3 linked regions of the Homo sapiens genome follow. The protein of the gene in region 3 purifies or fractionates together with the protein of the main gene of each other region. This does not show direct contact. Each region holds a gene or a part of one and is shown on either strand. Other genes may lie near its edges.

What was found.
Region 1: the proteins of NUP155 (region 3) and TNRC6B purify together in Homo sapiens (affinity purification with mass spectrometry; 2 studies listed by BioGRID). This does not show direct contact.
Region 2: the proteins of NUP155 (region 3) and NUP205 purify together in Homo sapiens (affinity purification with mass spectrometry; 2 studies listed by BioGRID and IntAct, with this or other methods). This does not show direct contact.

Annotation. Positions count from the first base shown.
Region 1 is NC_000022.11:40,327,867-40,331,620, reverse strand, and holds part of TNRC6B (trinucleotide repeat-containing gene 6B protein), read right to left. Parts: 3' UTR 1-3,754.
Region 2 is NC_000007.14:135,616,847-135,620,600, forward strand, and holds part of NUP205 (nuclear pore complex protein Nup205), read left to right. Parts: intron 1-243; coding exon 244-401; intron 402-755; coding exon 756-836; intron 837-1,565; coding exon 1,566-1,757; intron 1,758-2,576; coding exon 2,577-2,844; intron 2,845-2,943; coding exon 2,944-3,042; intron 3,043-3,754. UniProt on the Homo sapiens protein: Plays a role in the nuclear pore complex (NPC) assembly and/or maintenance. May anchor NUP62 and other nucleoporins, but not NUP153 and TPR, to the NPC.
Region 3 is NC_000005.10:37,301,380-37,305,133, reverse strand, and holds part of NUP155 (nuclear pore complex protein Nup155), read left to right. Parts: coding exon 1-77; intron 78-290; coding exon 291-395; intron 396-1,719; coding exon 1,720-1,874; intron 1,875-2,225; coding exon 2,226-2,355; intron 2,356-3,583; coding exon 3,584-3,697; intron 3,698-3,754.

The sequences.
Region 1 (3,754 bases), on a different chromosome or scaffold from region 3:
TATCAAAATTCACATTTGCATAATAATACATTTCAAGGCCATGAGAGAGGAATGAGAGCAAAGCGCAGAAGCAGCATCTCTCCTCCCTGTGTCTTCCTGAATGAAGCTGAAGGAATCGAGTGGGAGGGACTGTTCTCCTCTTTGGGGGAGCTCTGAGGAATCATGGAAATGGCCCTTAGCATTTGCTTGATATTTCTTTAGAAGATAGGAGTGGGGAGAAGAGGTGAAATTGTTTAAAACATAAAAACAAATAAAGACACTGCAGATTTCTGTGTTCAACTATAATAGCTCTGAAGAAATAAAATATGATTTCAGATTTTTCTCTTTTCTTTCTCAAACACTTCAATCTTAACTCTTCAAAACCCCTTTTCCTTGTGTGTAATACCCTGTTTGCATCAACAGCAACGTGATGTGACGCCCATGTGGGAATGTAATGGCCGCCTCAGGACACAGACTCAAAGGGTAAAAGCGTGCTGCCCGCTCTGCACACGGCAGAAGCTGGAAAATGCCTTGTTTACATGCATGAATGTGTCACAAGTATCACCATATTCCAATTCTCCAGTGCTTACAGAAAAACAAAAAACAAAACAGCCAAAGCCACATGAGCACAAACATACAGACGGAGAAAACTAGGGAATGCAGATGTGTAAACCTGCGCTCTTGGACTAACGTGGGTCTGCGTCGCCTGGGTACCTTCCCCTGTCTCCTCTCCCAAGTCCCAGAATCTCTTCCACTCAACTCTACACTGTGCAATATTGATGCTAATGAAATCTCAACAGCTGCTCCTGGGACTTCCAGGAGGAACTTTGACTTCCCTAATGACTAAAGCTGACCGTCTGTTTGTTTGTATCCAACGGATAGCTTCTTCCTAGAACGGACGGTCTCTGTACTCACAAAGGCACATTCAGAAATACTATACTTAAGTAATTCCTTAGACAAAATTTAAAAAGGGCGGTGGATGATGTTTTAAACACATTTATTCCAACTTATCCCAAAATTTCTGGCAAGAAGTGTCATGCTAAAATGCATCACTTGGTGAGAAACTATACTACCTTTAAAAGGTATGTAACTTCTTAAAGGGTTCCAAAGGTTTTTATTTTGTTTTGCCTAAATACCCACCTTTCCCATTTTTGGCGAACACACATAGGATGTACTGTCCTCCTCTCTGTAAAGCTCTTCTGTAGGGCTAGTCCTGGCAATAAGGCCACTCCACTTTGCCTCCAGTCAACTTTTACAGCCACCCCTCTGGGAGTTGTACACACCTTTCAGTAGCCGAAGGGGAAGGAACGCCAGATTCCGGAAGGCGGGAGAGAAAGCAAAGCACTTCCTTTCACAGCTCTGCTACAACAGCATCATAAGCCACCTTGACAACTTTCTTTTGCAGCTTACTGTGAGCAGTAAAGAGGAATTTCCCTTTTTGAAAAAAAAGAAAAAAACAAAAACCATCCCAACTTGTTGATATTGGCTAGATATGGGTCAATTATAATTGGGAATTTATTTCCAAAGCAATGATTTACAGTTTAAAAATGAAGTTGAGGCACAAAGTGCTTTAAACGGACACTATTTATTCTTTATTTAAAACAGAGTACTTCTTGCCTATTTATCTGATCTTTCCCCTCCCATGAACAAGATAAGCATTTGTCACAGTGAAGAACTGAAGACTGAGCTTTTTGCAAAGACCCTTTGGCCAAGGTAGTACCATTTTTCCTGGCCATGTACAGTTTCTTGTTAAAAACAAATTCAGGTATATAGCTAACTGAAAAGGGAACGATTTAAATTTGGTGAGGCAAACACTGGCAGTTACTGCAACTTTCGTTACTTTTTTGGGTGGCGGTAGGAGGTTATGACAAGAGACTGACAGCTTAAAAACTACTCAAATATTAGGGGTATGCCACAATCACTCGGGATCTGGTCCCGGTGGCCACACGCATGCGGGCAGTGTGGGTGCTGAGCTGCTGGAGGAGTAGCTCTCCACTCCCTGACCTGTGTCCCCCTTTACCACCTCGTAGGTTCATGGCCTCTTTCTTCAGAGGCATGGGGTGGGGAGGTATGGTGAGCAGGTTAGGGAGGGTCGATGTTGAATTTTTATTGTTATTACTATGTTCACAGATTCTTGGAGCTGATAATTATTTCAAATCTAAAGAATGTGATATTACCACCCCCTTTGTCAAACTTAAGAAAAAAAAAACACTATCACTGACAAATAGGGACCATTTCTGAAAATACACACACCTTTGGCGCTGGCCACAAACCCACAGACTGTTATCACAGGGTCTGCACTAACTCTGGAAATCTAGATAATATTCTGTTTTCTTACAGAATGACAATGTCCTCAATAGCATTATGTGTATCTGTGTGTTTCTTGACTGTATGGACTCCCTGTACTTGCAGATAAAGAAGTAAATGTAGTGCGCAGCAGGGTTTGTGAGTTCCCTATTTTCTTAACGACCATGAGGTCTGAAGACTGACAATTCATTGTATACACACAGACCAGAATATTTTCATCCGCATCATCACGCGGCTTTAGTTGTCCACTCACAGGAGGAAAAACACAATTAAAGAACAAGGCTTTTTTTTGTTTTGTTTTTGTTTTTTTTTTTTGCAGTAACACTAAGAAGTATAGTTAATGCATACACATGAAGTGTGACAAAACTTGGCAAAAACACTGCAGAGGAAAGTTTGATTTTTTTTAACCAGCGAAAAATTTATCTCACTTCTAAAGATCTTATAGATACTTAAAAACAAAAATCTCAAATCTAAAACAATAACCGATAAAGCTTTAAATGTTGAATTTTAACTCTGAGGATGGGGAAAAAATGGATCTTTTCTACATAAAGACTCAATTGTTCCCTAATCTTAGAGATGGCTATTAGAGCCAAGTCTGCTGAAAACATCCTGTTTACTCTGCAGAGAAAAACAGGCTTGGCGTAAGCATTTTGCTCAGCATGCAGACATTTTCATTCTGTTTTAGAGAAGAGTCAAGATGGCAGAATATAAAAAATGAAATTAAAAAGTACACAGCATCTGAGGTCAAAATGGAATCTGGCTGTTAACCTTACAAAAATCACCCCCTCACCCAAAAAAAAAAGTGGTAAAAATGAGTGAATAGTTGCAAAAAGTTAACAGCCTATGAGCTTCTAGTTTCTGCGAGATATATGTGTTAATAAAGGTGCTTCCAAATTCTCAGGCAGGAGTTTTATCTTTTCCTTTCTTTTTCCTCTTGCATACCTTCTATACCATATTCAACCCACAGGAGTTTGGAAGAACCGATTGCTAACTTATGCTACATTCATGTCAGAAGAGGTGGGAAAATTCTTACAACAGGAGCCATACTCATAGGAAATCAAGTTGCTATAAATAAAACTAACTAGCAATAAATGGATAAGTGATTTATTGGGGGGACACTGATTAAATAATTTGGTTTGGAACCTTAACTTGCAACACTGCTAAGTTAACTCCTATGAATGTTGTAAATGAAACACGTCCAGGGTTGGGGACTGAGGGATCAGAGATGTTACATGAGCCATCCATTTCTTCACAGTGTCTCAGAGATCTGAACTCTTTTCCACACTTAAAGTTAGGTCATGATACTGGATCTAATTGACAGCAGAGGTCCTCTGTCTGGTGTGAGACACCCCTTTCTCTATTAGTGCTTCTTTTCTTTTGGCTACTCGTGTGGTAGGTAGAAACCAAGTTTGTGATGTTCAGGAGATGTACACACCTCTAAGCCACTAGTAATCAAGTGTTTTAAAAA
Region 2 (3,754 bases), on a different chromosome or scaffold from region 3:
AAGGATTAATTGCCACCTGAAAATTTTTTTTATAATAGGATTATACAAAAGGAAAGAAAATATTTTTGTTAATGGATGTATCAGAAATAAAATCAAATTTAGATTCCAATACAGTTTTCAGTTTCTTGACTATTTTATGCTCTTTCTGAAAATAGCACTGTCTTTGAAAATCAACTGAATATGATGGCTTGCCTTTCTTTTCAATGTCCCAAGTAAAATCAAATTACTTTTTATTATTTCTAGTACGTCGAAAAATTCTAAATATTCTTGACTCGATTGACTTCAGTCAGGAGATCCCTGAGCCTTTGCAGTTGGATTTTTTTGATCGGGCCCAGATTGAACAAGTTATTGCTAACTGTGAACACAAGAATTTACGGGGACAGACAGTCTGCAATGTCAAGGTGAGGATTGCTTTAAAGTACATATCTGCAGTGTCAAGTGGCTCAGACTTTAAGTCATCAGAAACAAATAGAACCATATAGGTTTTCTTTCTGATAGAGACATTGGTTTAGTAGTTTATAGGAAGGACTGTGATTTTTGTAAAATATCCCTGAAATAAAACTTAATATATCACCTAACTTCTTGAAAAGGGATACTTAATATTTTGGTCTGGAAATTGGACAGTGCTCCTGTTAGATTATATATAAAGGTATCTGACACCTTTCCCTTTAGGGCAGTTTATGGTAATTGCTAGGTGTTACTGTTCTACCAGTGTCTGAAATGTCTTATTTTTCTTTCTTTTCCTAATTATCCAGCTTCTTCATAGGGTTCTTGTAGCTGAAGTAAATGCCCTTCAGGGTATGGCAGCCATAGGACAGAGACCTCTACTAATGGAGGTAAGCTCTATTGAGTATGTGTTCGTTTCAAACTTCTAACTACTTAGGTTGCTGGTGAAAAGACTAAAATAGTATATTGACATGTAGTTTGCTAATTAGTAAGCTGCCTAAAAATTAAACATTTAGGGAGTCTTTCACTTTTGATTTTATAACTTTTATAAACTGAACTATCTGGTATGCCAAAATAAATAACACCTTTTCTGCTAGGCTAGTTAAGGATTTGCAACCTGACCATATTTCGTATTAGACTTCACTTGGTCCCCATCAGTGAGAGAGGAGGGTCATTTGTCATCACAAGTGGAAAGTTACAGATAAGAGGTCAGGTGGGAAGAACCACATGAATGGAGATACAGCCGGCCAGGCCAAAGCAAGAGGCAAAGAAATAAAAGAGATGTCAGAGAAACATGCCATTGAACTTGGAGTTTAGATAATTCTAGTGCTCTAGAGTAAGCAAGTATAAGTAGACAGGTACAAGGAGAAAGAAGATGGTGTCAAAAAATACATATTTATCTATGCCACTTCTGTCCCCTACCTTTCATGCACATACACACACATACACACCTTATATGTTAATATTTTTTATAGCCCTGGCTACTGAAATAATATGAAAAGATACCTGCTTCCTGGCATGCATGTAGTAGGTTTCCAAATAAATATTTTCTGAGTAACTGACAGATAACTGATCTTATTTGCCTGTTTAACCTTGTGATTCAATTCCTGTGGCTTTAGGAAATCAGCACTGTACTTCAGTATGTGGTAGGAAGAAATAAATTGCTGCAGTGTCTTCATGCAAAACGTCATGCTCTGGAGTCGTGGAGGCAACTAGTAGAAATTATACTGACAGCTTGTCCCCAGGACCTCATTCAGGCAGAGGATCGACAACTGATTATTCGTGATATTTTACAAGATGTGCATGATAAGGTGACGTACTTCCTAAAATACTTTATACTGCTGAACGAATGTATCATTTAAACAAATATATTTTGGCATCCTAATTGTTTTCCATTTTCGATTGGGAGTAAAATAGAATTGTGCAATACCAACGTTAAGACTTTCCTTGAGAAAGGGATTAATTCTGTACAGTAGTGGCTCTCAACCAGAGTGTGTGTCTGAGTTATCTCGGGAGCTTTGTAAAAATTCACATGGACAGAGCCCACCCCAGACCTACTGAATGTAGTGGTGAGACCATTTATGTGAATTTCAAAAAGAAAACCTCCCTAGGGAATTCTGATAGGAATCCCTTCTGGTTAAGAACACCCATTACCTAGCATCATGTTTAAATTTCTCTGTATATATTAGATTCCTTTCTTTCTTTCTTTCTTTCTTGACTAATTTCTGTATTCCATTCTTATATTGTTACCATAGTTGACAAGCTAAATGTATATAAAACTTGTTAATGGGCTGTGTGCAGTGATTCATGCCTGCAATCCCAGAACTTTGAGAGGCCAAGGTGGGAGGATCACTGGAGCCCAGGAGTTTGAGACCAACCTGGGCAACATAGTGAGATTCCATCTCTACGAGCATGATGGTGTGCACCTGTAGTCACAGTTGCGGGAGGCTGAGGTGGGAAGACCTCCTGAGCCCAGGAGGTCAAGGCTGAAGTGAGCTGAGATTATGCTACTGCACTCCAGCCTCGGTGACAGAGCGAGACCCTGTCTTCAAAAAAAAAAAGCTATGAAATTTGTTAATGATTATAGCTGAAAGCAGGATTCTCACTCTAATTTGCCCTTGTCCTTTAAGATACTGGATGATGAAGCTGCGCAAGAGTTAATGCCTGTGGTCGCCGGGGCAGTGTTCACACTGACTGCTCACCTAAGCCAGGCCGTCCTCACTGAACAGAAGGAAACATCAGTCTTGGGACCAGCAGAGGCCCATTACGCTTTTATGCTTGATAGTTGCTTCACCTCACCTCCTCCTGAAGAGAACCCATTAGTGGGTTTTGCTTCTATTGGAGATTCTTCACTTTACATCATATTGAAGAAACTGTTAGACTTCATTTTGAAGACAGGTTTTTTTCATTTAAATTGTCTATAAATTCTATCTTTTGTATTTGTTTTAACTTTAATTGAGAAAAGATTTTCATTTGACATCTTCCTAATCTCCCTAGGTGGTGGATTCCAACGAGTGAGGACTCACTTGTATGGCTCTCTGCTTTATTACTTACAGATTGCCCAGAGACCTGATGAACCAGACACCTTAGAAGCAGGTAGAATGAGATCAATTCCTAATCTTTTCTGGATTGGGAGATGGTTACTTTAAATTGAAAAAAAAAATCACTTCTCCATCTTTTGACTAATCACAACTGTAAAAAATGAGTGTTAGTGTCATTTTTAAAGCATTTACTCAAAAGTTGAGGAAGAATGTTTAGTTTTTAAGAATTATGAAGTAGTACATGAGTACTACTTTTAAGATAACCTTCAAATAATACTTTAGCTTTATATACTTCTGTAACTCCCTCACTTGCCTCAAGTCCGACTGAACAGTGTGCTCTACATAGAATGGTCCAATGTCTTTCTTTCCTTTGTGCTACATCAGAGTACTTATCTAGTTGATTCTTTTAAAATATCTCGGCCTGGCATGGTGGCTCACGCCTGTAATCCTAGCACTTTGGGAGGCCGAGGCCTGTGGATCACCTGAGGTCAGGAGTTCGAGACCAGCTTGGCCAATATGGTGAAACCCCATCTCTACTAAAAATCAGAAAATTAGCAGCCATGGTGGCAGGCATCTGTAATCCCAGCTACTCAGGAGGCTGAAGCAGGAGAATCGCTTGAACCCAGGAGGCAGAGGTTTCCCAGATTGCGCCACTGCCCTCCAGCCTGGGCAACAAGAGTGAAACTCTGTCTCAAAAAGAAACACAAAAGTCTTTGTTATTCCATGATATGGATGAAACACTTATCTGCCATTTTCCTTATTCACAG
Region 3 (3,754 bases):
GTGTACCCAAAAAACCTGGTCCTCCAGTGTTGTCATCTGATCCAAATATGCTGAGTAATGAAGAAGCAGGACATCATGTAAGGGACATAGTATATTTTCATTCTGAGAATACACTGTTTAGAAGTTCTCCATGGTAATGGTAGCACAGTCATCTTGGGGAAAGGTGGTAGTTCTTAGAAGTTATCATGTAAGGATTCTTGATTTCTTACTGGAGTTTATAGGGCTAAAGGGTTGTGATGCCCAGAAACAGAGCCTTTAACTGCTAATTTTTACTATTTTCTTTATTTTAGTTTGAACAAATGCTTAAATTGTCACAGCGATCCAAGGATGAGCTCTTTAGTATTGCCCTTTATAATTGGCTAATACAAGTCGACCTTGCAGATAAGCTGCTACAGGTAAATCTTTTTTTATTGCAGTTGTGTTAATTATTCTTAAGGAGCATAACTCAATGATTTAAGCACATATATAGATGTAAAAAATTCAGTTTCTCATCCCATGCCTGCTATTAGATGTTAGTATAAAGCTGAGTAATGCAGTATCTTTTCCTAAGGGGCAAAGTAGGCTACTGCTCCAATTTTCTTGTTAATTCGAAGCTGATTGGGATAGTTTGTATTGCGGGGTAGAAATCACTGGATTATGAATATGAGTCCTGTAGGTCATCTTATCTTAACTCTGCTGTTAAGTCACTGTGACTTCAGATATGTCCTTTTACCTACCCTAAGTTTCAGTGTTCCTCAATCTGTTTAATGAATACATAGCATTTGATAATTTCAATAATGCCTTTGAGCTCAATGTCTAGGAATCAATAGCTGTGTTATCAAAGTTTATTTAAAAATTTGTAATTTTATAGTAAATTTCCCTTTTTTTTTTTTTTTTTTTTTTTTGAGATGGAGTCTGGCTCTGTTGCCCAGGCTGGAGTGCAGTGGCATGATCTCAGCTCACTGCAACCTCCGCCTCCCGGGTTCCAGCAATCCTCCTGCTTCAGCCTCCCAAGTAGCTGGGATTACAGGCACCCGCCACCACGCACAGCTAATTTTTATATCTTTTTAGTAGAGACGGGGTTTTACCATGTTGGCCAGGCTGGTCTCAAACTCCTGAGCTCAGGTGATCTGCCCACCTCAGCTTCCCGAAGTGCTGGGATTACAGGCATGAACCACTGTGCCCGGCCAAATTTCCTTTTCTTTTTTGAGGCAGGGTCTCAATCTGTAGCTTAGGCTGAAGTGCAGTGCAATGGCACGATAATGGCTCACTGTAGCCTTGACCTCCCTAGGCTCAGGTGATCCTCACACCTAACCCTCCTGAGTAACTAGAACTATAGGCCCGCACCACCACACCCAGCTAATTTTTTTGTAGAGACGAGGTTTTGCCATATATTGCCCAGGCTGGTCTCAAACTCCTGAGCTCACATGATCTGCCCACCTCGGCCTCCCAAAGTGCGAGGATTACAGACATGAGTCGCCATGCCCAGCCTACTAAATTATTGTTATCAACCTAATAGAATTGTTTTGGAAACTCTTATGCTAACTGTGGTAAAACAAAAATTGTTTATAATAAGAAAATTTGCCCTCTCTTTTATCTGTTAGTATTGGATTATAATTTTGCTTGTTTTCATAAAACAAGGCAAAGTTGTAGTTGACTTAAAAATACTATATTTTCCTTATCAGGAACATTATCTGTAGGTGGTTAGAAAATTTTTCTGAATAACTATATAATTTCTAGGTTGCTTCTCCATTTCTGGAGCCACATCTAGTCCGAATGGCCAAAGTTGATCAAAACAGAGTTCGTTATATGGATTTACTCTGGCGGTATTACGAGAAGAACAGAAGTTTCAGTAATGCTGCTCGTGTACTGTCCAGACTGGCTGACATGCATAGGTATGGCATAATATTCTTATTGTGAAGAATGATTCAAAACTGAGCTATATGTACTTACATTCAGTTTTCTTTAATTTTAGAAGAATCTAAGTTTTAATATACTGACCTAAATTTTTTAAATAGGATGTTACTTTTTAGTCATAAATGTATTTCTTTATGTGTTGTCTAAAATTGTGGATCTCTCTTATGAGAAATCTAAAATAGATTTTTTTTTAAATCTAATGATTTTTTTTCAAGTTTCAGATGGCTTTTTATGTGTGTTTGGTATGAAACAGTACATACTAATTGACGTATTTGTATCATCAATCCTTAAGAAATTGTGTAACTAAAAATAAGCGTTTTCCCTTCTAGCACAGAAATTTCACTTCAGCAGCGACTAGAGTACATTGCTCGAGCCATTCTTAGTGCCAAAAGTTCCACTGCCATTTCATCAATAGCTGCCGATGGTGAATTTCTTCATGAATTAGAAGAAAAAATGGAGGTAAGTGCTAAAGATCTTAAGCTGTGTCCACATTGAGTACTAGCCACATAGTTATTCCACATTCCATTCTTCCCTTGGTAAGTAATAGGTCTGAGAAGTCATTATTATTCTAGTTGCTTTTGTCTGTTTATATTTATTTTTATGTTTAGATATAAATCTTAAAGATTTTTAAGGATGCACTTGGGTCATAAAAACATTGCTATAATTTAGAAGTTTTCTCTTTGGCACTTCGAAAGGTTTTTCCCAGCTGGGTGCAGTGGCTCACGCCTGTAATCCCAGCACTTTGGGAGGCCGAGGCAGCCAGATCATGAGGTCAGAAGTTCGAGACCAGCCTGGCCAATATGGCGAAACCTTGTCTCTACTTAAAAAAATACAAGAATTAGCCGGGGGTGGTGGCACACACCTGTAGTCCCAGCTACTTGGGAGACTGAGGCAGGAGAATTGCTTGAACCCAGGAAGCGGAGGTTGCAGTGAGCTGAGATTGCACCACTGCATTCCAGCCTGGGAGACAGACTGAGACTCTGTCTCAAAAAATAATAATAATAAAAAATAAATGTTTTTCCCAACTGTTTCAACAGCAAGTGGATTACATCACATTCACCATTTATTTTGGAAGCAAATAAGTAGATGTATGAAGTAGAGTAGGCTAAAATTCCCTAACTAAGAGAATCAAAAACATACCATCGTCCAAATACAAAAGTTTGTTTCTTATTCACAAAAATCCAAGGTGAGTCTTCCTGATTGGCAGCTGGCTTTCCTCCGTGTGGTTGATTTAGGAACCCAAGTTCTATTTTCTGGCACTACCATTCCCTAGGGCCTCTGCTTTATCTTCAGCAGAGGGTGGAAGGAAAAGAAAGAACACATTCACTGTCTTAAAAACTATAGCCCTGACATGACACACTACTTCTACTCACATTCCTTTGAAGAGAACTTGGTTGTATGGCCATACCTCCCCTACAGAGGAGGCTGAGCTGTATAGTCTAACCATTTGGCTACAGTCTTGGAAGGTATAAGTATTGGGCAGCAAGGAGTCTGCCACAGTATACTTCCTGTGAAATCTATTATGTTTAGTTGATGTCTGTTATGATAATATTAGCCTATTATGATAGAAATCTTCATTTATACATTATTTTAGCAAACTTAAAGTCAGATAGTAGGATCCGTTCTTTCAAACGTATGTTGATTTATCATAAATAAATTAAGACATCCTGTTTTCTGCCCAAACTAGGTTGCTAGGATCCAACTTCAGATACAGGAGACACTACAAAGGCAGTATTCCCATCATTCTTCTGTACAGGATGCAGTTTCTCAGCTGGATTCTGAGCTGATGGACATAACTAAGGTAATAAAAAAGCAAGTGAAATTTTTATAGTAGTTACCTAATAATGAGAAATTTTTG